Homo sapiens: one gene and its partners. The protein of the gene in region 4 purifies or fractionates together with the protein of the main gene of each other region. This does not show direct contact. Each region holds a gene or a part of one and is shown on either strand. Other genes may lie near its edges. The genes, in order: TXNDC5, ABCF2, PEX7, EFL1, LPP, THUMPD3 and ITM2C.

What was found.
Region 1: the proteins of EFL1 (region 4) and TXNDC5 fractionate together in Homo sapiens (co-fractionation; one large-scale study listed by BioGRID). This does not show direct contact.
Region 2: the proteins of EFL1 (region 4) and ABCF2 fractionate together in Homo sapiens (co-fractionation; one large-scale study listed by BioGRID). This does not show direct contact.
Region 3: the proteins of EFL1 (region 4) and PEX7 purify together in Homo sapiens (co-immunoprecipitation; one large-scale study listed by IntAct). This does not show direct contact.
Region 5: the proteins of EFL1 (region 4) and LPP fractionate together in Homo sapiens (co-fractionation; one large-scale study listed by BioGRID). This does not show direct contact.
Region 6: the proteins of EFL1 (region 4) and THUMPD3 fractionate together in Homo sapiens (co-fractionation; one large-scale study listed by BioGRID). This does not show direct contact.
Region 7: the proteins of EFL1 (region 4) and ITM2C purify together in Homo sapiens (co-immunoprecipitation; one large-scale study listed by IntAct). This does not show direct contact.

What each region holds. Positions count from the first base shown.
Region 1 is NC_000006.12:7,890,289-7,893,788, reverse strand, and holds part of TXNDC5 (thioredoxin domain-containing protein 5 isoform 1 precursor), read left to right. Parts: intron 1-2,052; coding exon 2,053-2,168; intron 2,169-3,500. UniProt on the Homo sapiens protein: Protein disulfide isomerase of the endoplasmic reticulum lumen involved in the formation of disulfide bonds in proteins. Can reduce insulin disulfide bonds.
Region 2 is NC_000007.14:151,214,095-151,217,205, reverse strand, and holds part of ABCF2 (ATP-binding cassette sub-family F member 2), read left to right. Parts: intron 1-1,176; coding exon 1,177-1,239; intron 1,240-1,473; coding exon 1,474-1,602; intron 1,603-2,123; coding exon 2,124-2,327; intron 2,328-3,014; coding exon 3,015-3,111. Other genes in the region: ABCF2-H2BK1 (ABCF2-H2B protein), read left to right, coding at 1,177-1,239, 1,474-1,602, 2,124-2,327, 3,015-3,111.
Region 3 is NC_000006.12:136,843,092-136,846,591, reverse strand, and holds part of PEX7 (peroxisomal biogenesis factor 7), read right to left. Parts: intron 978-3,500; coding exon 900-977; intron 520-899; coding exon 411-519; intron 1-410. UniProt on the Homo sapiens protein: Receptor required for the peroxisomal import of proteins containing a C-terminal PTS2-type peroxisomal targeting signal. Specifically binds to cargo proteins containing a PTS2 peroxisomal targeting signal in the cytosol.
Region 4 is NC_000015.10:82,147,735-82,151,234, forward strand, and holds part of EFL1 (elongation factor-like GTPase 1), read right to left. Parts: intron 1-3,500. UniProt on the Homo sapiens protein: GTPase involved in the biogenesis of the 60S ribosomal subunit and translational activation of ribosomes.
Region 5 is NC_000003.12:188,160,657-188,164,156, reverse strand, and holds part of LPP (lipoma-preferred partner), read right to left. Parts: intron 1-3,500. UniProt on the Homo sapiens protein: May play a structural role at sites of cell adhesion in maintaining cell shape and motility. In addition to these structural functions, it may also be implicated in signaling events and activation of gene transcription.
Region 6 is NC_000003.12:9,376,554-9,380,053, reverse strand, and holds part of THUMPD3 (tRNA (guanine(6)-N(2))-methyltransferase THUMP3), read right to left. Parts: intron 2,236-3,500; coding exon 2,166-2,235; intron 1-2,165. UniProt on the Homo sapiens protein: Catalytic subunit of the THUMPD3-TRM112 methyltransferase complex, that specifically mediates the S-adenosyl-L-methionine-dependent N(2)-methylation of guanosine nucleotide at position 6 (m2G6) in tRNAs.
Region 7 is NC_000002.12:230,863,761-230,867,741, reverse strand, and holds the start of ITM2C (integral membrane protein 2C), read right to left. Parts: upstream 2,801-3,981; 5' UTR 2,717-2,800; coding exon 2,597-2,716; intron 1-2,596. UniProt on the Homo sapiens protein: Negative regulator of amyloid-beta peptide production. May inhibit the processing of APP by blocking its access to alpha- and beta-secretase.

The DNA of each region.
Region 1 (3,500 bases), on a different chromosome or scaffold from region 4:
TGCCTGCTGGGAGTCAGAGCCCCTCCCCCACCACACTTACTGTCCACAGTAACTTATCGTGAGGCCTTCAGCCTTTTCCCACTTTTGCTAAAAGTTATTTCATCCATACCAGCGCCCTGACGGCAGAACTCTAGCATGCTTTCCGCTACGGGAATGCATTTTCAGCTGGGATTGTCTTGGGCTCTGAGCAGGGTGTGTTTCCCAAATCACCTGTTACGGACCGACTCCGGCAGGACAGACCGACTCCGGCAGGCCTAGCCAGCGCCTCCCTAAGTGGGTCACTGCCACACAGCTGTGTCGTGTAGGTACCATGGTGGCTTCCTGCCCTTGCTGGCTTCCCATCAGTACTCTGATTAGGTTCCCAGAGAGCCTGTCTCCACCTTACAGTGCAGGATCTACTGTGCACCTGCACATGGTTTCAGCTTTGCACATTTTTTAATGGAAGTTGTTAACTTTTAAAGGAAGTTTTTCACCATTTTCTTCAAGTGCATTGTTGCTGTGCTGATGAGACAGTAGCTGTGAGCCTTAGTGTGGCAGAGTCCTGCTCAGACGCCAGGCCACATGCCACTGGTTAGTTCTCTCCCCGGCCACAGCCTGCTTTCAGTTTGGTATCAGCCCAATGTCAGGGTAGAACAGCTAAACACCTTCTGTGTCCAAATAATGATGCTGTGAGGGTTTGTTTGTTTTTTTCCCCGTAGCCAAGGGGGTGATGTTTCATTTTTTAAACTTTTTTTTATGATAAAATATAATACAGATCGAGAAAACAAATGTAGGGCTTAATGAATTTTTATAGCGTGGTCACACTGTAACTACTGTCCAGTTCAAGAAATAAAACTGCCAGCTTCCCGTGTCCCATGCAGGGCACAGCCCGCCCTCCCTTCTCCAAGAAGGCACTTGCCTGACATTTGTGGAAACCACTTGTATTAGTCCGTTTTCACTGCTGATGAATACACACCCGAGACTGGGCAATTTACAAAGGAAAGAGGTTTAATGGAGAACTCACAGTTCCACGTGGCTGGCGAAGCCTCACAATCATGGTGGAAGGCAAGGAGGAGCAAGTCACATCTTATATGGATATCAGCAGGCAAAAAGAGCTTGTGTAGGGAAACTCCCGTTTTTAAAACCATCAGATCTCATGAGACTTATTCACTATCACGAGACCAGCATGGGAAAGACCTGTCCCCGTGACTCAGTTACCTCCTACCTGGTCCCTCCCACGACATGTGGGAATTCAAGATGAGATTTGGGTGGGGACACAGCCAAACCATATCAACTCCTTTATGTGCACTGAAGTGCACATTCCTGAGCACTATAGTTCTATATGTGTATGTGTTTATATATCTTTTAAGGCTCTTTTAACCTGCATGTTCTCCAGACATCTCTTTATCTTTCTTGCTGAAGACATAGGTGGTTTGACCTGTAGAGCTCCCCGTGGTCCAGACTTTGCTAATTGTGTCCCCGTAGTGTGGTCTACATGTTTCCCTGATTTCTCTGTTTCCTGGAAATTGGTAGTTGGGTCTGGGGACAAAATCAGTTTCAGTGTGATGTTTTTTGGGGGCACAAGAAGACCTCATAGCTGGTGGGGGCACAGAACGTCCAGTTGTCTCTCTTTGGGATGTGGTCGACCATGACAGGCAGAGCCTGGGTCCGTCCATTCCTTAGGGCTGCCAAGTGCCGAGGCTCATTCAAGCGTCCCTTCATTTTTTAACCAAGAGAAACTCACCCTCATTTATCACCTGGTTATTCAGCGGTACAGTGCATATAGGAGAGGTGGGAGAAATGCCTGATTCTTTCCTTTTATTACAGTTTTCCAAATAATGAGTTGATTGCTGATTGTCCATCAAAGATGACAAATTTGGTTTTGAGTATTGTTATGAAGTCATGAACAGAAACACATTTGATGGAGTCCCTTTGTACCAATTAAAGTGCTCATGCCGAACTAAGATTTGCTAAGCAGGACAAAGATCTGATTCTTCAATTAACTCTCTAGTGAGGTCTGACATAAATTACAGTTCCTCTTTCCCCCGTCTCTGCCTTGGCTCTCCACTCCAGGCGACCACTTTATCAAGTTCTTCGCTCCGTGGTGTGGTCACTGCAAAGCCCTGGCTCCAACCTGGGAGCAGCTGGCTCTGGGCCTTGAACATTCCGAAACTGTCAAGATTGGCAAGGTGAGTGAAAGCCCTTATTAAACTGGAAATGGACTGCTTTGGGCTGGATTAATTAGCAGAGTGGCCCATTATTCATTCCGTGTGCAAAGTCGCAAACTTGATTTATTAATTCCATTTAGTGTGCCACTTGATAATTCATTTCACCTTCACAGATGGCAGTCTGATTTTGAGTTTTGCTGGCTTTTCCACAGCCTAGAGATAAATTATGGCCTCGGCTGCTTTGTTTATTTTGAAGAGATGGCCAAATCTGAATTGGCAGCCCCAGAGCCCGTTCTGCAAAGAGATGGGGTAGAGCCTTGTAGAATGTTCACTGGACGAACTTGGAGACCGTCCACGTTCGACCTCACCCAAGAGCTCTCTCTAAAAGGACCCTGGCTCTGTGCTCCCCCAAGCACGCAGAAGACCCTCCCTCAGTTTGCACTGTGCCTGGGATTCTTTCCAGCATTTCCTACTTTATACAGAGAAGCCAAGAGTGGTGTCTGACAACTTCTGTGTAACTGGATTTTCTGGAAATATCCAGTGTAGCTCCAGGGACATCACTTTTATTCTTCTACACTTTCCAGCACCCACCAGACACCATGCATAGATTTCCTTTCTTAAAAATCTCATTTTTCTACCTTGCCATGGGGCTGATTTGTATCCAAAAGTAATGCTGCGTGTCTAGGACTGAATGATGGTTAACAGGATGATCTACTTGGGATGGTGAGATGGTCAAAAGCATAAACTTGGGGGTTGGGTAGACCTGGCTGGCTGACCTTGGGAAAAACCTCTCCACGCCTCGGTCTCCCCCTTTGCAAAACTGAGCTAAGATCTACTGTGTGGTGTCTGGGCAGATGAAAGTACACTGCTTAGTGTGATGCTTAGCATGGGGCAGATGCTTGGTAAATTGTAATCACTTTTGTTGTCAGTTAAATGGATATTTCACTGTTGCCTCTTAAACGCTTACGATAATATATACTAATTATACATGTTATTATCAGTTTATATTTATTGAACATTTCGGGGAAGTAATTATAAAATAATCTTGTCTACTGTCTTACCCCATTCCTTGTATCCTTACTTAATTATTGTATGAAATTTTATGGGAGATTCTTTTAGGTTTATATCCATAGAGGATCCTAGCAGACCTAGGCGTGAGCAGACACAAGCCCAGGTGACCACGCTGAAGCCCTTCATCCCTGGCACATGTGGCTGGGTTACACTGGACCCTTAAAAATGCTTGTCCTCTCCCGACCTTGGGCTGAGGCCTCTTGTACTTCAGTTCCGCACCTTAGCTGCTCTCTGACGGGTCTTAGGTGTTGAAATAGTATTTTTACCCCCGTTTGCTGACAT
Region 2 (3,111 bases), on a different chromosome or scaffold from region 4:
GTTCTTGTCTTGTTCCCTGGGTTGTGGGATGGGCTCCAGCTGCCCATGATCCTAAACTTGAATAAGCAGGTTGGAAAATGATAGAATGAATGAATATAAAATATTGTAAAAGAAAAATTCATAAAGTTTATGATAACCATACAAATGCAGTCAGCAAACCAGCCACATTCGTGATTATTTTTTAACTGTGTGGTGGTAGGAGGTGCTCCTTACAGTTTTCCCTTTGCAAACATTTATTCCTTGGTTTAACCCACCACTCTTAAAATTGCCATCACTCACTGATTCACCAAAAATTGGGTAAATATCTTACCTTGTTTTTATTAATCTTTCTTAAGTGTATGTATAGCTCACATGTATTTTGATGTTGAATATTAGAAGTGACTGGGTTTTTTGGCCAGGTGCCGTGGCTCACACCTGTAATCCCAGTGCTTTGGGAGGCCGAGGCAGGCAGATCACTTGAGATCAGGAGTGTGAGACCAGCCTGGCCACATGGTGAAACCCCCTCTCTACTAAAAATGCAAAAAAAAAATTAGCCAGGTGTGGTGGCGGGTGTCTGTAATCCCAGCTACTCCAGAATCTCTTGAGCCTGGGACAGAGAAGTTGCAGTTAGTCGAGATCTCGCCACTGCACTCCAGCCTGGGCAACAGAGCGAGACTCCCTCTTAAAGAAAAGAATCTTTGGATCTTTATTTAGAAGTTTGGTGATCTTTTTTTGTGACCAAAAATGCTGCAGGAACCTAATTCTTGTTTATATCAGTTAGCCTGTGGCAAAATTAGTTTTGCTATATGTTGTTTCACTTAAAGTGAAACTTTAAAATAGGTTCTGTTTCTAAGAACCTATCGATGACAGTGACAACTTTGAGGACTTAACTGTTTTTAATTTTAGAAAATGTATGTTGCACCTACATCCAAGTCCTTTGTTATACAGCATAGTGCATTCAGTAGACATTTTATAACTACTTAAATTGTATCTTTGCCTCTTGAGAACATCTGCTTCAGTACATCTTCCTAAATATTTTTAGAGTGGCCAGAATAGCAGTGTGCGAGTTGGTGATGTATTCTTTTTAGGAAGTTGAGTCTTGTTCAGTGTGAACATGTGTTTGTTTGCCTGCTCTGCCTATGTTTCTAACTGGGCTTCCTTTGTTTCATGCTTACGTTTCTACTTTTTTCTTCCTAGCTACTACCCACAGATGGCATGATCCGAAAACACTCTCATGTCAAGATAGGGCGTTACCATCAGGTACAGGCCTGGGGTTGGGATCCGGGGAATTGCCCAGGGTATAGGGAGGGGCTGTATCTGGCTGAGTTCCAGCCAGCCGCCCCCACCCCCTGGCAGGAATTCCAGCCTAGGTGGCTCCTACCTGCTTCTTGAACCCAGAACAGGTGCCTGGGATAGAAATAGGAAGTTACCTAGTAGGGTTTATTTTGAAGCGGGATGCCAGTCACACCCGGGTGGCTTCCATTTTTCCTGTAGCATTTACAAGAGCAGCTGGACTTAGATCTCTCACCTTTGGAGTACATGATGAAGTGCTACCCAGAGATCAAGGAGAAGGAAGAAATGAGGAAGATCATTGGGCGATACGGTCTCACTGGGAAACAACAGGTCAGTAAAGGAGGGTGTGGTGAGGATGCCAGATAGCTGGCAGACTGTGGCTGGGTGGGTCAGGGGATACTGTCCTGGCAGCCTGGGTTTGGAAGCTGTCCAAACCAGAGTCTCCTCCATTTGACTCCCCTAAGAACCTACTACCTTTTCTTTACTCTAGGTTGTTATGTAATGGAGCATTTTGAGGGGGCAAGGATAGCGTGCCAGTCTCTGACATGCCCTTGTGCCATAGTGCTTGAGGGCAAAGGAACTTGTAATCTAGAAAACAAATTTCTGGATTCAGATCTGGAAGGATCCAATTCATTGCCAAGAGAGCGAGAGGTGTGGGCTTAGTAATGGCAAGGGCTTCAGGTTTCCGGATGAGTCTCTTTCAGGCCTCAAGAGACTAGTGGGTCTCTCTGAGCCTCACTTTTTATAAATGGCGATGCTAATGGAGGAGTCAGGGAGAAATGAGGGAGAGATGAGCTGTGCTGTTTGGCGGGGATAATGCCAAGTTATATGTAGGTCACGGTTCTACTCAGGTGAGCCCAATCCGGAACTTGTCAGACGGGCAGAAGTGCCGAGTGTGTCTGGCCTGGCTGGCCTGGCAGAACCCCCACATGCTCTTCCTGGATGAACCCACCAATCACCTGGATATCGAGACCATCGACGCCCTGGCAGATGCCATCAATGAGTTTGAGGGTGGTATGATGCTGGTCAGCCATGACTTCAGACTCATTCAGCAGGTGAGGCCCTGGCCAGGGGGTGAGGCACAGCAGAGCTTCTAGGGGGTTGGGTAGGGTAGTCATGGCATGTGGAGGGTGCATAATACCCGCCTACTGAATTAAGAGAAGGGGCTCAGAGTGTAGACACAGGTGGTGAGGACCAGTTCTTATGCCTCTTTGGGGCTACTTAGAAAGCCTTAACTGAAACACTTCATTTCTTCAGTAGCTATCTGGAGATGTCAACCAACTTAGCATTTTGGGCCCAAATGGGAAAGAGAGTTGGGTAGAAAACGGTGCTTTTACTACTGTCCCAAGATTCTTCAGTCCAAAAATAGTATTCTAAGGAGGATTTTGATTAGACAGCTACCACAGTCATTTGAGAAAAAGTTGTTGCTCATTCCTCTGAAGCTCTGGGGAAGATGAGAGGTGGAGAAAAGAAGGCTGAGAGTGAAGCCTCTGAATAGATCTAGGCCCTGCCAGGGAGCTGACAATAGGAGTGACACAGCAGTTCCTGGCTTGGAAGGCTCCAAACCTGATGATGGTACCCTTGGGTTAGAACATCCCAAATAACTTAGAAGTAGTGAGACAGTGAGTTGGATATGGGTTTGGGGGGCGGAGTTTTCTTCCTAGACGCCCCTCAGGACAGTCTGCTGGGCAGAGGCAGGGACAGTGACTAGCCCAGGATTAAGTCCAGGTTTTGCTTTCTAGGTTGCACAGGAAATTTGGGTCTGTGAGAAGCAGACAATCACCAAGTGGCCTGGAGACATCCTGGCTTACAAGGAGCACCTCAAGTCCAAGCTGGTGG
Region 3 (3,500 bases), on a different chromosome or scaffold from region 4:
CCGCATGTTCTCACTCATAGGTGGGAAGTGAACAATGAGAACACTTGGACACAGGATGGGGAACATCACACACCGGGGCCTGTCATGGGGTGGGGGAAGGGGGGAGAGATAGCATTAGGAGATATATCCAATGTAAATGATGAGTTAATGGGTGCAGCACACCAACATGGCACACATGCACACACATGTAACAAACCCGCACGTTGTGCACATGTACCCTAGAACTTAAAGTATAATAATAAAAATAAAAAAATAAAAATAAAAAAAGAAGTAAAGTCTTAAGAACACAAAAGAATAGTAATATTCTCCTGTTTTCTCTCTGAAGCTAAGGTACACAGCGCCACCTAATGGTAAAAACAAGGCCACCATTCACTACAAGTAAGGCTTTTGGTAAATACAGAATAATTTACCTGAGGCTGAAGCAAAACAACCAGGGATGTGGGGAGACCAGATTGTGCTATAAATAATACTTTCATGGCCTCTAAAGGTGCACAGAGACTTTCCAACAGTTGGATCCCACTACAAATAAATGAATAGATCAATTACTTGAGGGATAAATTCAAATTTATGCTTTTACATATACTACATACACCAATAAACTATATACATTTATATATATGCATACAATATATATACAGATCTCAAGGATTTTTAAAGATCTGTTTTGATATAAAGCAAGACTGTATTTAAGGGCCAAACTAATGCTGAGCTAACTATTAGTTCACAGCCAAAAGATTAGAAAATTTTAAGTTCTAATAAGTGTTTTAATTTTTTTTTTAAAAGAAAGCTCAGCTGTCGAATCATAGAGCTACAGAAGTATGTTGGAAAAAGAGAAGAAAATTTAGTGGAAGCTCTAGAGAAGGGAATATTCGTTTTTGAATACAATAATGCTAACATACCAATTTGACAGTTTGATCCCATGAGCCAGACACCACAAGCTGTTCACCTCTGGTTTGGCTCCAATCAACACTATACACCTAAAAACATTGAAAAGTGTTTAGAAAGCAAAAGACCATCAAGTTCAACATTGCATTTTATCTCTTGTTACATAACAATGAGAGGCAGAACAACTAATTTACTATGTCAAAACATCAAATAATTCCTATCCATCTCAACAAGGTGTCTGAGAAATGAAAAGTTGATCTTGTCCATTCCTCCAGACTTATTCCTTACAGATAAGACTCCATTCTGCTTTCACAGAATTCTACAGTATACTTCCAAACCTTCTTCACTAAAACAAATTATACATATTTTAAAACCTACCAACAAATCACTGTTTGCAGCCCCACGAAGAAATGTCAAAGCAGATTAGAAAGTTAGTCATCTAAAAAAGCTTGCTGGGTCAATGTTTATTGGAAAGCATTAAAATTCAATTAATATCCCTATCTGGCCTTTCTTAGAAAAAGCTTGCAGGAACCAGGTGATCCTTCCAGATCTCTTGGTAAACAGTTTTAGTTATCCAATGCTGCTATTCTAAAGTATATGCTTCACTGCTCTCAGTGAACCATTTCAAATGAACTACTTGAAAACTTTTGGAAATGTTTTCATTCTTTCATTTTATACAACAGATTATACACAGATCACTGCTGTAAACTAAGTTCAACAAAATATGTGCATAATTATACTTTATGAAATTAGTCCTGACAAGGACCTGAGTATATGCCATTGGTATATCACATTGGTGATCAGCCAGCAGGTTACTTTGAATCTTACTACTCTCTCCCACATATACGTAGGAAGTATGAGTATCTGGGCTTAAGCCGCTTACATGTGGGTTACTTTCTCTCTGCTGCCCAGTACTATATTGAGCCATGTTGGAGGCTGAGGAAAAAAAACATCAGTAATACTGATCCCGTCACTTATAGGTGGAATCTAAAAAAGTCAAACTTAGAGAAACATACAGTAGAGTAGTGTTTGCCAGGGGCTGGGGGTGGGGGAAATGGGGATATGTTGGTCAAAGGATACAAACTTTTAGTTATAAGATGAATAATTTCTAGAGATTCAATGTACACCATGGTAACTATTATAAATAATAATGTATTACTGAATACTTGAAATTTGCTGAGAGTAGATCTGAAATGTTCTTATCTCACACACAAGAAAATGGTAACCATTCAAGTGATGGATATGTTAATTAGCTTGACTGTAGGAATCATTACTCAAGATATATTTAGATCAAAACCCTAAGCTGTACAACTTAGATTTTTCTTTTTTTTTTTCCAAAACAGGGTCTTGCGCAGTCGCCCAGGCTGGAGTGCAGTGGGCACAATCTCAGCTCACTGCAGCGATGACCTCCTGGGCTCAAGCGGTCCTCCCACACCTCAGCCTCCTAAGTAGCTGGAGTCACGCTTGCGTGCCACCACACCCAGCTAATTTTTTTCTTATTTTCTGTAGAGACAGTGTCTCACCATGTTCCCCAGGCTGGTCTCAAACTCCTAGGCTCAAGCAGTCCTACCGCCTCAGCCTCCCAAAGTGCTAGGTTTACAGGCATGAGCCACCGTGCCCAGCCTACAAATTTTTATTTGCCAATCATAATAAACCTGGAAAAAAGTTTAATAAAATTAATATTAAGCTTCAAAAAAAGTAAAATATCGATATTTTGTTCATAATGGGTTTTTTGCATTAATTTTTATTTTTAAAAACATTAACAAATTATCTTGATTATCAAGTTTTTTGGGGCCCCCTTAAATTGTGTACCTAGAGTGAGTGCCTCACACATTCTACCCTAGTCCTGGCCCTGCCTCTGCCCATATTCACGCAAAAGACAGAAGAGTAGTTGGAACACTAAAGGAAGCACAATCCAGCAACAGACAGCAGCTATAAAAGGAATAGAAGGGCCAGTGAAAACCAAAGAGCTGCTGTGGCCATCTGTTAGTTATGGATAGAAAAAAGGCTGGTTTGGAAGCAATCACTGAAGATCTTGAGAGCTAAAGAGTTTGATTTTATCCTCTAAATTTCGCCTACAAAGGACCATATAGTAAATGGTAAGTTTCTTCAAAAAAGGTACATTTCTTCTATAAAGGGCCATATGGTAAATACTTTAGATTTTACAGGCTATTTGGTCACTGTCACAACTACTAAACCCAGCTCTTATAGCACACACCAAGCAGCCATAGTCAATACCGAATGAATGCGCATGGCTTGATTCCAAAAAAACTTTATTTGTAAATCTAACTGCAGGCCAGATTTGGTCCTGGTCCACATGACGTAGTTTGCCAACCCCTGCTCTAGGCTGATGTAAACAGTCAAAAATAAAAATAGCAAACCTTTATTGAACACTCTGAGTGTCAGATCCTGTTCATAAGCACTTTATGTATTTTATTTCATTTAATCTTCATTTATATGAAGTAGATACTATATCAAGGCCCAGAGAGGTTAAGTAACTTGTCCAGAGTCCCAAAGCTAGTAAGGTGCAGATATGAAATCTGAACGTGGGCAGCCTAATTGCAGAGTCCACTTTTAATCGCAATGTGAGGCTATCTGTACAGCATGCTACTTGA
Region 4 (3,500 bases):
AAAATTCCTTTGCAGAGTAATGAGAGTCTAAAAGAAATCAATCATGAATGATCTCAATGACAGAAGAAGGAAGAAAGCCCCTCCTCAACCCCTATTTTAAGAGGACATGCACAGTAGAAGGAAGAAGAGGATACCAACTCAGGTGGATCAGTAGCATGTCCAAGATGCTCAAAATCAAAACAAGCTGAGTGTATGTACCAAAGTAAAAGAGCTAAAGACAGTGCAAAGAGCTTTTTCCAATACTGGTTGAATATCTCTTCTCCAAAATGAGTGGGACCAGAAGTGTTTTACATTTTTTATTTTTTTAGATTTTGGCATATTTGTATTATATACTGTTTGAGCATCCCAAATTAAAAAATAAAGGCTGGGCAGGGTGGGATTACGCCTGTAATCCCAGCACTTTGGGAGGCTGAGGCGGATGGATCATGAGGTCAGGGGTTCGAGACCAACCTGGCCAACATAGTGAAATGCCGTCTCTACTAAAAATATAAAAATTAGCCAGGTGTGGTGGCATGCGCCTGTAGTCCCAGCTATTCGGAAGGCTGAGGTGGGAGAATTGCTTGAACCCAGGAGGTGGAGGTTGCAGTGAGCTGAGACCATGCCATTGCACTCCAGCCTAGGTGACAGAGTGAGAATCCATCTCAAAAAAAAAAAAAAAAAAGTTTCAAATTTTAGATGATTTGGGATTTTGGATTTTCAGATTTGGGATACTCAACCTATACTTTCAAAATAAGGAGACATGTCTTGTCTACAACTTATAGAAACTAGTATCATGTTACAGAGGATAGCAAGAAAATAGGGGTTCGCAATACCTATGTTACCTATCTTTCTCTTCAGTGAGGAGAATGGTGAACAAACTATAGCAAGTGGAACAAGTTGAAGTGGGAGAACACTGAAGTTCACGGTAGCTCAGCAGTTGATGACTAAGTGCTTGGCCTTCTTAAATGAGTTCAAGTCTCCAGGACCAGAATTATATCTCACCATAATAAGAGAATTTGCCCTTTTGAGAAATTATGAATAGTAAGGTAGGTGCCAGACTATAGGAAAAAGGTAAATAATGACTAAACTTTTTGAGGATATAAACACTGCGTTCCATAAATTGCAGACTAGAAAGCCATATGCTAATTTTCTGTAGAATTTTAAGGAAACACTATAGACATTTGTACATGTTTATACAAGTATGAGGTAAATCTTGGGAGACAACATGGACTTTCTAATACAAAATACTAACCTAAGCTTTTTTTTTTTCTAACATGATTGGTAAGCTGATAATTGGGGGACTGTTATAGATGTAAAGGACCGTAACTTCATCGAAACATTTGATTTTCTACCTGTTGAGTTTTATTTCTCATCAGACAAGGACACATGAAAAAAATGAATAAGAAATCAATGTGTTAAGATGGTGGTGATGTGACTTCTTTTTCTTGCCATTAAAATTTTTCTCCTGTTTACTGTTGTAATGCTAATTATGTTATATAACTTAAGAAAAAAATTAAGTGTATAGACTCAGTACTCATAAGAAAAAAATTAAGTGTATAGACTCAGTACTCATACACAAATAAATATAGGAGTTCATACAACTACATGATTTCTACAGTCTAGTCAATTACCAAAAATTTGGATTCTGCTTTTTGGGGAACAGAGTGGGAAAACATAACTTTGTTTTGAAAAAAAAGAAATAGGGTTGATCTTGACTTCTCATATGAATTAATGAGAAGACGTAATTGTTAAATTTCATTAAAAGAAGAATGTTGTATTTCATGTAGGAGGTAACAGTGTAGACACAGACATGTTCTCTACTGGTTGGAGGGTATGTGAGGTGCTGTGTTCAAATATAGTTGCTTTAAGAGGGATGCTGACCAAATAAATTATGTCCAAAAGACAGCAACTGAAATGGTGAAAGGATACAGAAATCCTAACAGAAAAACAGGTGAAGGATTTGGAGTTTTTCTCCTGGATATAAAACTAGAAAACTAATGATTTATTTCAAATACATAAAAGAGTTGTTGCATGGAAGAGAGATGAATGGTGGTACAGATGATTGGAAACTAGCAGGTGACAGACATTTTGCTCAATATAGAAAAAAACACCATTAAATCACGAAGCTGGCTGTGCACTGGCCATCAATAGAAGTATTCAAATAGTGGTGGTATAAGCATTTGTCGGGGTAGGAGAGGCTGGAGAAAAGCTCTTAGGTCTTCTTCAAAGATTTGAGGGATTAAGATTTGATTTTAACTCTTACTTCCGCCTTAAGAAAGTTCTCAATGAAAATGAAAAATAGCATCTGAGAATAGTCTAGATTGGTGTTTCCCAAACAAATCTACAAATTCCATGGCTGTTAATAGGCATGCTATATTCAAATAAGGTTGAAAAGCACTGTATATGACATGCTGTATTTGGAGATTTGATTCACAATGCATACTGGCCTTAACCCAGCTATTTTTCAAATGCTGCTAATGACGCTCAGTCTCACAAAAACCTTAATGTGATGGAAGCCTAAATTTCTTTTGGGAAAAAAAACAAACAAACTTAGATTTCTGCTTTCAGGAATTAATCAGCAAAAGAACCTTCCTAAAAAGAATGTAATTAACCACATATTGACTCAAAGGGCCTCAGGGTTAGAGGAAACTTAATAATTTGGCCGATTCTCTCATCCAGGGCTCAATCCTCCTTTATATTCTCTTCACTACTGAAACAGTTCCATGATCTTGAGAGAATAAGAGAACTACTGTGTGCCAGGTGCTGTTCTGGGCACTGTATTTAAAAAAATTGTGTTATTTTAATCTTCACAATCTGTATGAATTATTATCCCCTTTCTTTACCTATGTAAAGAAACTAAGTCTCAGTGAACTAATACCAGTGAAAAGTCCAAAGAGCTACTAAGTGCCAGGGCTTCATGTCTCCTGGGATCTTAAAGGTTGCTTCTCCCAAAGAGAGAAAAATCAGGAATAGGATTTGATATAATGGTTAGCAGTGAATAAAGCCCCAAATAATTTTCTTTCTCAGAAAGAACCCAGAATTCACAAAAGCCCTTTTGTGTTATGAGTACAAGAATGTTGCCTTATTCTTTGATCATTTTCAGAACAACTTTGGTTACCCAGACTGATATGGTTATTTGCTTGAGATAAAATATGGCACAGGTTTGGATGGTAACACATATGAGCAGTTTAAACCTCATTTAGCAGACCTCTCATTACGGAAAGGATTCTATTTGTTGCAAAAGAAAAGATCTTTAGTAGTCATGTTTTTCCCCTCTCAAGATTTTAATACTTAAGATATCTGGCTTTCAAAGATCTTAGTTTGTTAGTAAATCAGAAGATGGTACAGCTTCTGCAAAACATACTAAACGAGTTTAAGATTTTTGGGTCTGCCAGGTGCAGTGGCTCACGCCTGTAATCCCAGAACTTTGGGAGGCCAAAGTGGGTGGATCACTTGAACTCAGGAGTTCGAGACCAACCTGGGCAACGTTGCGAAACTCAGTCTCTACAAAAAACACAAAA
Region 5 (3,500 bases), on a different chromosome or scaffold from region 4:
CAAAAGGCTCCAGCAATTCACAAGTCCATCAGTCCTTCACATGCGCCTCTCCCACGGCACTCTCTTATATTATAGATATACATTAACATGATTTTATCAACCCTCATAAATAGTAAGTGCTTACGATCTTGACATACCCTTCAAACAAACTTAAATTCCACTTCTATAAATGTAGTTTATTCAGCAGACTTTTTTTTTTTTTTTTGGAGACAGAGTCTTGCTCTATTGCCCAGGCTGGAGTGCAGTGGTGCCATCCTGGCTCACTGCAACCTCAGCCTCCTGGGTTCAAGCGATTCTCCTGCCTCAGCCTCCCGAGTAGCTGGGATTACAGGCGCCCACTACCACACCTGGCTAATTTTTTTTTTTTTTGTATATTTAGTAGAGACGAGGTTAAATCATGTTGACCAGGCTGGTCTCAAACTCCTGACCTCACGTGATCCACCCAACTCAGTCTCCCAAAGTGCTGGGACTACAGGCGTGAGCCACCATGCCTGGCCACTCAGCAGACATTTCTTGAGCACCTAGCACCCCCTCTAACAAAAACAGTGGATGTTTGTTGAGTCCTTGCCTTATGCCTGGCCTTATGCACATTATTTACACTACCTCACTCAATATTCACCTATAAGTAGGGTGACCATATAACGTATCCTCCGAATCAGGACACCTATGAGAGTAAAAAGGAACACTACTGATACCACTGAAGTCCTCTGCAAGTTGACAGTTGCGCTGCTGGGTGGTGGCCTGAGTAATTAAGGGACACTAACAATGGCTTCAGCAGGAAGGGTGCATGCTGGAGGCAGGTCAAAGCATCCTCCTTTAAGGTCAGTGACCCTGCCCTGTCCTGATCCTCATGCTTATCCAGCCCATGAAAGGTTCCCACACAAGTTTCTGAAGAAGACCTGGTTTCACCTTCAACACCAGCTTTCCATTTGAACTACAGAGGGATCTCCAGCTATGATGCAAAGTCACAACACAAGCAATTACAACAGTAGAAGCAGACCCTCCACGGGTAACAGATACAAACAGTGCAAACAAAACCCAAGAGAAGGTGGGATGGTGGCAGTGGAAGAAGGGACACTGCACAGCCATCCACTGGTGACAAATCAGCGCACAACCTGGAAATGCCCGTGAATGTCTGTGGCACTCATCCCACTTTTGCGGGCACACTATACTCAACTGTGGTGACCTCATTAATAAGAGATCTAAAAATGAATACGTGGAGAAAACAAATAGTGCCTGTGACCACCAAGGGAGCACCCTGTATTAAACAGCACAACGAGGACTTGAACTAGGAGTTGTCTAGGTCTAAATCCTTTCAGCCCCACAAGCACAGTAAGGTGTCATCACTGTGTGCCAGATGCCCCGCTGGGCACCCAGAATCGGACACATGTACAGACTGCATTACCACTGACAAAGCGCCATCACAGAAATGCCCCTGATTCTCACAAATGCATTGTGATAGATCACAGGATCTCCATTGAAAGGTAATTTAGGCTCAGGGATGTTCCAGAACTTGTTCAAGATCACAGGGCTTGTGGTTAGCCCAAACATAGGTCTTTGTTTTCCCTACACCAAAAATCACCACTATTGCCAAAATGATCCGGTATGGTGAAGCCCAGATCTTTGAACTCCCTGTCCCAAATCTGATTTTTAGTCTTGCCTTCCAAAGCCTTGAATATAGTCACCTAATGCTACTAATTAGTACTAGTGAAATAATAATAACTACTTCTCACCTGTGTAAAGGGCTTGCAGGGATGTTCACATCAACTATGCTCATTTGCAAAAGTTAAGGAACAAGACAGGAGTTTTGGAGAGGGGGGTTTGATTCTCACTCTGCCACTTAAGGCCCTGCACCCCAGTTAGGAAAGTTTTATGACCCTTGAACTCCCGACCAATATCTGCAAGATAAGACTGATCTAGCCAACTTGTCTCTTGCATTATATTTGGGAACAAAGTAATACAAATGATTATAAAATGTATTTGCTACATTAAAAGTGCTATGAAGGCTATGAAATACTCATGGTTTCTGTGAGATACATTGTGATGGGCAGGTTCAATAGGGAAGACAAACACAGGAGGATCTACCTTGTAATGGATCTAAAACTATTGCCTAAAAACTTCTAGGCAAGCAAAAATAAGTAAATATTAATGGAGAATGGTAGAGAGCAGGGGCAGGGAGCTGTCAAAAGCAAGGAACCTTGATATTAGCATGGAAGCATAGCTTGGTTCTCACAAACAAGCATCAATGGCAGCCATCCATGGCAGTTACATAAATAAATCGCCAGACCACACACACTCAAACTGAACCATCTTAATCTGATTGCTTTCTAAGTATGAAGCGCAAGTTTCAAGCCTAAGATACCATAATTTCCAAGTTACATCCTCTCCTAAAATTCTCCAAAGCAGAGAAACCCCTAGTGGAGGGTGGAGTGGGGAAGGAAGGTGTGAGGTACAGCAGAAATTGAGAATGAAAAATACCTGGAAACAGGGCTGGCCTAGGAGTAAAGGCTGTGACCCAACTCCACTTCAGCTGACAAGGGTGTGATTGAGCAGCTCTGTCCCTTTTCTGGGGCCTCAGTTTCCTCATCTGTATAACAAGGGATCAGCTCACTCTGGCCAAGAAGGCCCCAGTCCATGCTTGGCTGGCAGCTTGCTGCTTCTCCTGTTGACTACAAACTTTGGTGTACATTAAAAAAATTCTTTTCCCCAGCCAAGATGGATAAGCTGTCAAACAATTAGAAGGACAAAAGTAGGAATTAAGCTACCTGATATTATTCTAGCAGCAAACAGTTTCTGGAATCCATTTTTCCCTCCGTACGCTGCTGACCCGATACAGGCCCATTTCTCCTGTCCTGGAATACTTCAGCAGCCTTCTAAGCTGGGACTCTGCCTCTGGTCTTAACCTGCCCTCAGTCTGCCACCAGAGCTCTTTGAAATACAGATCCAACAAGGCCCTCCTTTGCTCAAAATATAATAATAATAAAAGCCTTCCTGCTCCCTCCCACCTCTGCCATCATCCTTAGCTTGGCCCATCAGCTCTTTATCAACTAACCCTCCCTAGCCAGCCCCATCTCCCACAGTGATCTCCAAACACACATTTATATTCCTCAAATACTTTTAGGCCTCAGGCCTGTGCACATACACCAAGGTCCCTATGGCTAGAAAGCTCTTCCACTCCTATCCACCATGTAAACTCCTATTCACTTCTCAAAACCCAACCAAATGTCTTCTTTTCCATAGGCATTCACCAGTTCTTCTAGATGATTGGTCACTCCTTTCTCCATGTTCCCATTAGCCCTTTGCTCATTACTTTATTAGAGCCTTAGCATCTTCTCTTTCAGTTTCTTTCCTATGATAGAAGGAAGACTCTGGAAGGCAGAGCCTATCTCAGTTTTCTTTGTAACCAGTATCTAGCATTTCTGCCTGGCATACAGTAATCACTTTGTACACAAGTACCGAACTCAATACATGAAATTGAGTTGTATCTGATCACAGATACG
Region 6 (3,500 bases), on a different chromosome or scaffold from region 4:
TTGTGGTTGTGGGAGTTTACATAATCTGATATATTTGAAAATTGCAAAATAAAATGCTATTTCCGGCCGGGCATGGTGGCTCACACCTGAAATCCCAGCACTTTGGGAAGCTGAGGCAGGAGGATTTCTTGAGCCCAGGAGTTTGAGACCAGCCTGGGAACATGGTGAAAGCCCATCTCTACAAAAACACAAAAATCAGCTGGGTGTGATGGTGTGCACCTGAGTCTCAGCTACTCGAGAGGCTGAGGTGGGAGAATGGCTTAAGACAGGGAGGCAGAGGTTGCAGGGAGCTGAGATTACACCACTGCACTCCAGCCTGGCTGACAGAGCAAGACCCCAGGTCAAAAAAATAATAGTAAAATGCAATTTCCTTTGTATGATAGGCTTTTGAATGGTAACCACCATATCACTGGAAGGATTTTGTAATTATAAATAAAAAACCTGTCAGCAGAACATAAATACCAAGCTGTCACATGTCATTTGTGGAATGAGGTGACGTGACCCTAGGCCTGAACAATGTTCTATGCAGATTAACAGAAGGTTTCTGACACGAAAGCCGGGAAAGGTCTGCCTCTGCTTAGGGGTGAGTAGCAAACACCTTTGTGTTCCTTTGTGAACAGTAACATACTTCTCATCCATGAGTGCAGTGTTTCATAACTTTTTCTTTTGCCCAGACACTTGAGGGTGATAACATACCCTGTCTACAATCCTACGATGACATCAAACAAAAGGGAAGTTGAAGTATCCCAGAATTTTGGGTGGGTGGGGATGTAGAGGGGACCTAGAGTTTGAGGAAGGCTCTCAGTGATTCCGATTCCCAAATATTCTTTTTTTTTTTTCCTAAACCTATTTGGATTTTCAGCATTGGAAAGAATTGGGTTTTATAGCATAACACTTCTAAATTAAAAAAAAAAATTATTCTAGATCAAGTATTTTATACTTTGGTGAACAAATCTTTATATATACCTTGTCAATTTATTCATAATTTTATTCATTTTGATCATATATCGGCTTAGGTTTTTCTACATTGACATCTGCATGTCTACTCTTACATGGAAATGGCTCAAACTTCATGTTTTAATTTTTTTCGGCCTTTATTTTTACTCGGAGCTCTGTTGTGTATTTCTTGACATGCGGTGACCTTACCTGCTATTTCATACACATATCATGATTTCATACTAGAAAACAACACTCTGCTTTCTTCCCAGAATCCTTCTTGGCCACAAGAAGGACTGGGTTTTTACTGTGCAGTCTCTTTAAGCCACAGTAATTTCTCTAGCTTTCACGGAACACAGTCACATGTAGACTTCTATGATTTCAGTCTTGGATTTTAACTCCCAGAACAGATACCATTTTCTAATTACAGTTTGGATTATTTCTCCCCTTGTGGGCTTGCTTTGGACTTGCTCATCTGTCCAGTTTCTACCCAATCATATAATCTGCTGTGTCTCCCTGCAGTTTATTCAAATTGGCTGTCAGTATACTATATGGAAGAACTACTATGTTTCACACAAACTTCAGTGATTTTACTGGGAGCTCCCTCTTCTAAATTCTTTAAAAACATATAGATGATACTGATTATTCAAGGGGAATCTACTGTGAAATATTCTCCATTTAGAAAATGCCTTTCCATTTCTTGCTTTGCTTTACACAGTTTTTATGAGTCCTCTCAATATCATGGTAATTTTGAAAACTAAGAGCATTTGGTATTAAGCTTGTTAGACTTCCTAAAAAATCCAAGTAATGTTCATAAGTTTCCCCTTTTTACAACTATACTTATTCCCTCTAGGAACTTAAGTGGATTACAGAGAAGAAAATTGCCTTCCTCCAGTTTATGCTTATGCCTTCAATTATCTTTTCCCATTCAAGTCTACCAGCTTGTCTGTTACACAAAGAGGACTCATCGGCAGTTTGTAATTCTCAGCTTCCTCTGTAATCTAGTGAATAGATGTCACTAACAATGTATCTAGGCCAGTGGCACATGGCTCTTTGAAATAAGTAGTTACATTCTTTACAAAAAAGTTCCACTTTCTATTGTTAATTGTTTTAAAACTCTTGGGTCCACTGATCCAACCATGGAGATTTCATTATGTCTAATTTGCCCATTAGGTCTAGAATATTCTGGATGTATCACTCTTATCTAAAAGCTAAAGAAATATGATTACCTCTATTGGTATTGCCCCAGTTCCACACATTGGATCGACTATTATATCATAAGGTAGAGGATCACAGAGCCTAGAGAAAAGAAAACAGCCTATGTGAAGACTCACTCAAAAGCTGAGGCTTCTATACTGATGATTCCTGAAGCTTTAAGATTGAGGACCTACCACACTAGCCCGAAGGAACACCAATCTACACATATTTTAGAAATCAATTTGTGGCCGCGCACGGTGACTCACGCCTGTAATCCCAGCACTTTGGGAGGCTGAGATGGGTGGATCGCTTGAGGTCAGGAATTCAAGACCAGCCTGGCCAACATGGCGAAACCCCGTCTCCACTAAAAATACAAAAAATTAGCTGGGCGTGGTGGTGGGTGCCTGTAATCCCAGCTAGTACAAAGGCTGAGACTCGAGAATTGCTTGAACCCAGAAGGCGGGGATTGCAGTGAGCCAAGATCATGTAAGATGCAGCCTGGGTGACAGAGCAAGACTCCGTCTCAAAAATAAATAAATAAATAAATAAAATCAATTTATAATGATATGTTGACTGTATATTCCATTACTTGGGGAAAAAAAATCCTTATAACTAAATCTCCTTTGACTATCTTCCAAAATCCCATTTCACTCTCAGATGAAATTTAGTTTGCAGACATCTTAAAGTACACATGTGTACACACACACACACACACACGCTCATGCATACTTTTTGACAACAGTGTTGTTTTCAACAGAAACCTGTATTACATTAAAAAGACTCAAAAATGTCTCAAGTCAAACATGCATCAATATAAGGTTACTGGCAATGAGACATTCAGTATTCCTTTCCTTCTGAATTTAAAGCTAATCTTGATATAAAAAAATTGCTCTGTGGGACTAGGTAATAAAAAAAGGAAAAAAAAATGCTTTACTTTGAGCACTTAGTATTTCCTGGGCATGGACTTAAGCTCTTTCCATGCATTATCTCACAGAATCCTCAGTAAGGACCCTGTTAGATAATTATCATTATTCTCATTTTAAAGGTAAGCTGATGCAAGGAAACATGAAGTTACCTGCCCAGGGACACAAAACTAGTAGGTAACAGATTCAAGATTAGAGGCATTACTGTTAGTGGCTTAACTGTTATCCTCTTTATGAAGCATCCCACCCTGAAACAGGTCAGTAGGTTTCTTCCCTTCTCTTGTTCTTCTAATCTTTTCATGTGCTGGTGTGGGACTTATCGCATGTATGATAACTATTTATCTCCCTCACAAGACAGATTCTTGGGGGTTAATAGTGGGTTCTTATTGTAACATTGGTCCTGCTCTATCTCCTTGCTCCTACTCCTCAACACATGGCAATAGA
Region 7 (3,981 bases), on a different chromosome or scaffold from region 4:
GTTGCAATGAGCCAAGATCGTGCCACGGAACTCTAGCCTGGGTAAAAGTGAGACTCTGTCTCAAAAAAAAAAATAAAATAAAATAAAATAGATAAAATAAAATAAATCTTGTTTTGGAGTCCAGTTCAGACACCAAGGAGGGTTCTGGGGTCACTGCCAGCCAGAAGAAACGTTTTAATAAGCTTTCCTGGGCATTCCCAACAGTACGGGACAAAATCTACACGCCCTGCCCTGAGAAAGCAGCCTCCTGGCTGCCATCCCTCGGCTCACAGAGCTACAGCTGAGAAATGGGCCTCCTGCCTGCTCACTGCTGGGGGCAGGAGACGAGGCCTGGCTCCTTGCCAGAAACTGGGTAAGGAGGAAATGTGCGGGTTGGCCAAGTGGGGCAACAGGAGGCCCGCAGAAGTGAACTGTTTCCAAGGCTCCAAATCTAGCAGGTGATGGGCAGAGCCAACTTGCAACACCTAAAGTCCCTCTGCACCACGCCAGGGCCTTGGGAAGCTGTGAAAGTTTACTAACATGCAGTTCTGTCCTAAAGATGCCAGGATTCTAATTCTTTCCCCAGATCGCATAGTCCTAAGCTCCCCCTTGCCAATTAGAGAGGGAGGGGACCCTGCCCAACTGACAAAGTTTGAGGGAGGAGGTACTCAGCAGGCTCAAGGCCATTACAAACAGCACGCAGGAAGATGTTGATATTTCCATTTCATGCTGGGTGAGGGGGAAGAAAGGACGCTCAATTTCAGAGCCTGATGAGAAGCCAGAAGCTAGGATGTCAGTTATGCCCCGAGATGCAGGTCTCTGTCAGACTGCCCAAACCCATGCCATCAGCAGGCTGCGGCTGGAGAATGTGCCGCTCCTGCAAAATCTGGGGGACCTTCTGATGGAGTTGGAATAACACCCTCCCACTGTCTGACCTGGTCCTCCCTCCTCAAATATCTCCAGGAAGAGGTGGCTAGGAAAAGAGATGGGCAAGCGTGCTGCCTCCTGCCCCCATCCCTGCCCCTCCCCAGGCTGAGTGGAGGGCAGCTTCCCTTCCAAAGAAAAGGAGTCTTGAAGAACCCCTTGCAAACTTTTAAAGCTGCAGAACCATCTTCTTCAAATATGGAGCGCCCCCTCCACCTAAGCTTCAGATGAAAAGGGGGGAGCTGCTCTCATGGGGTGCACAGCAACCCCCAACCTCGCCTAGGTGGTTGTTGAACTCTTGTGGCTCTGAGCCACTGGTTGCTGCAGTGACCACCATAAAAGGGCAGGGGGTTCTCAGTCTCCTGGCATTCCTCACTCAGGGTCTCTGCCCAGGCTGACACCCAACTCTGACGGCCCTCTCCGGCGCCCCCTCCTCCAGGGTCCAGGTCATCCTCTGCAGGCCCCTTAATGCCCCAGGCAAGACTGAACCTGAGCCACAAAACCTGGGGAGGGGGCTAGGCGTTCAGGAAGACTCTTCAGAAGCCTGCATCTGGAAGTGGGGAAGCAGTGGACAAAGACTTTCTCAGTCCTGCCTCAATGCGGGGTGGGGAGGCGGGGAGGACATGGGCTTGGTAAGCCACAAGACCGCTGGGGGCGGCGCCCACGTAGACACCTTTGCCAGGCACAATAAAACCTGGCTGGGCCAGCTCTCCCTCCCTCCCTGTCCCTGCCCGCCACGCGTTCTGCCCCCTGCGGGCCCTTCCCGGACACAAGGCACGCAGCTCAGACAGTTTTCCACGGCGGAAATGCCTTCTCTCCCCCCCGGCCAGAGGGAAAGTGGAGGAAGCCGGGGTAGGGGAGGGGGATGACAGGGGTGGGGGAACGCGCACAGAGCCCGGGGACCCAGGATGCAAGGGCACTGGGGCAGTTGGGAGCCCTCCCCGTGGGGTCGGGGGACAGCCCAGCGAGAGGCTGGGAATGGAGAAAAGAGAGGGGAGCAGGGAGGCCCAGACGGCAGGGCGTGGGGTGGGAAGGGGGCACCCGGCCTCGGACCCCCGACGTCCAGAGGCCGCAGCGCCGTCGGTTCTGGCTGATTTCCATTTCATCACTTTCTGGTCTGTCAATTCCGGTGCAGGCCAGCAGCACATCCTCTGTCCCTCGCAGCCCCCAATTTCGGAGGAAATCAACGGCCCCACCCTCTTCGTTGGTACCAGACCCCCCCACCCCCAATTCCCCAGCCAATCAGGTCCCACCGCCCTACTTTGGAAAAACTACGTCTAACCCTCCTCCCATCCCCCACCTGGGGACTCGACTCGCGGCTTTCCCAGTTGATTGGAACCAGACGCGTACCCCCCCACCAACATTCCTCGAACTTCTTCGGACCAGCCCCCTCCCCCTATAAGGCGGCGAGGGGGCCCCCACTTTTGGAAGAGACCTCGAGCACTTCTCCACCTGAAGACCAGAACCAGACGCCTCCCACTCTTCGGACTTCAGCTTTTGGCTGCCGCTTTAGTACGGGACTTAAGCCCCCTCCTCATTCTGGGATAAGCAACCATTCGAGACTTCCCAACCCTGCTCCACCCCGGGCTCTGGGGCCCTGACGCGCCTCGGGCAGTCCCCAGGGCCGACGGGGCGCGCCTGGGTCGTGAGCCTGGGTCCCCCGCCCCACCGCCTGAGCCCCAGACCCTCTCACCCTAGCCGGCGTCAGCAGGATCTCGGTGGCCGAGGCCGGCGCAGGGGCCGACGCCGACGCCTTGTCAGCCTTGTCGCCCTTGATGCCAGCCACGGCGGGCTGGAAGCTAATCTTCACCATGGCTGCGCCGGCCCGCGCGTCCGCCCCGCAGCCTCTGCCGGTGCAGCCTCGGTCTCTGCCTCCGCCGCTCCGAGCTCTGCAGGCACCGGAAGTTTGGATCCCGCTCGCGTCCCTCTCTCTAACCCCACCCCCAGCCCTCCCCGCCCCGTCCCCGCGGGAGGGCCCCGGCGCCCGCCGCGCCTGCGCCCCCTTCCCGCCCGCGGGGCCCGCAGTGACCCCTGCCGGGCGCGCCGCTCCGCACCTGGGGCGGGTCGGAGTTCCTTCTGCCGCTCGCTCGCACAGTCACTCACTCGCTCGCTCACTCACTCACTCACTCACTCGCTCACTCATTCATTCAGCCGTCACGCTCGGATCCGTTCTCCGTAGCATAATCCCTTCGCATTCCCTGTCCAAGGCCAGCATCCCCGCAACGCAAGTCTTTGTTAACCCAGTGTTTGCCAGGCAAATGCAGCTTCCAGACAACTCACCCGTCTCTCCTGCCCCACTTCAGGTCTTCCCCTTTAGAAACGCTGGAGCCTCCGCTCTACCTGTCCCCACGCCCCCCTCCTCCGACCTGTCCTTGGCGCGGGGAGGAGGCTTTGAGACAGGCGCCAAACTGCTGCCTCCGTCTTGCCTTCTGAAGCCATCCACGCCTCCTTCATCCTCCATCTTGCTTCTGCCTTCATTCTTTATTCCTGCAAAACCTTCCTGGGGGGTCCTGGGGTGCACGCTGGAGCCGCCTGGAGTGGAGAAGGGAAGGCCGCCCCTGCTCCCTGGCTCCTTCGTGTTGCTGCGACCTCAGTTATTGGGTGACCTCCTGAACTGCCCTTGTCTCACTCATCCAGGAGGACCCTGGCGAGAGTGGAGGGAAGACCCCCAGGGCGGGTGTCAGAGGCTCGGGTTCCACTCAAGACTCTGCTCCTCCCAAGTATCACGGGTACTGGGGAAGCAGGGGCTTCTGTTGCTGGGATGGCTGCTCTTGGCACTAACGCCCTGAATCTTTCCTCTTTGCTCCTGGTCCAGACTGGGCCAGGGACAGCGCCCAGCAACACACACAGGTTGTGCTGAGTGGTCCGCTTTGGTTCTGCTGTTGGGCTGCCAGTGGAGGGCAGGGGAGTCCGTCCGCTTCTTGAGGACAGTCCGGGGTCCTCCACTGATCTCTCTTCTCACCTTTCAGGTCTTTTGCAGCTGCCTTGGGCCCTTAGCGCCCACGTCCCAGACCCGGACCTCTTGGCTCAGATCTTGGATGAACCTAGCAACCTTGAGGACAGACAGGTGGGGAAAGA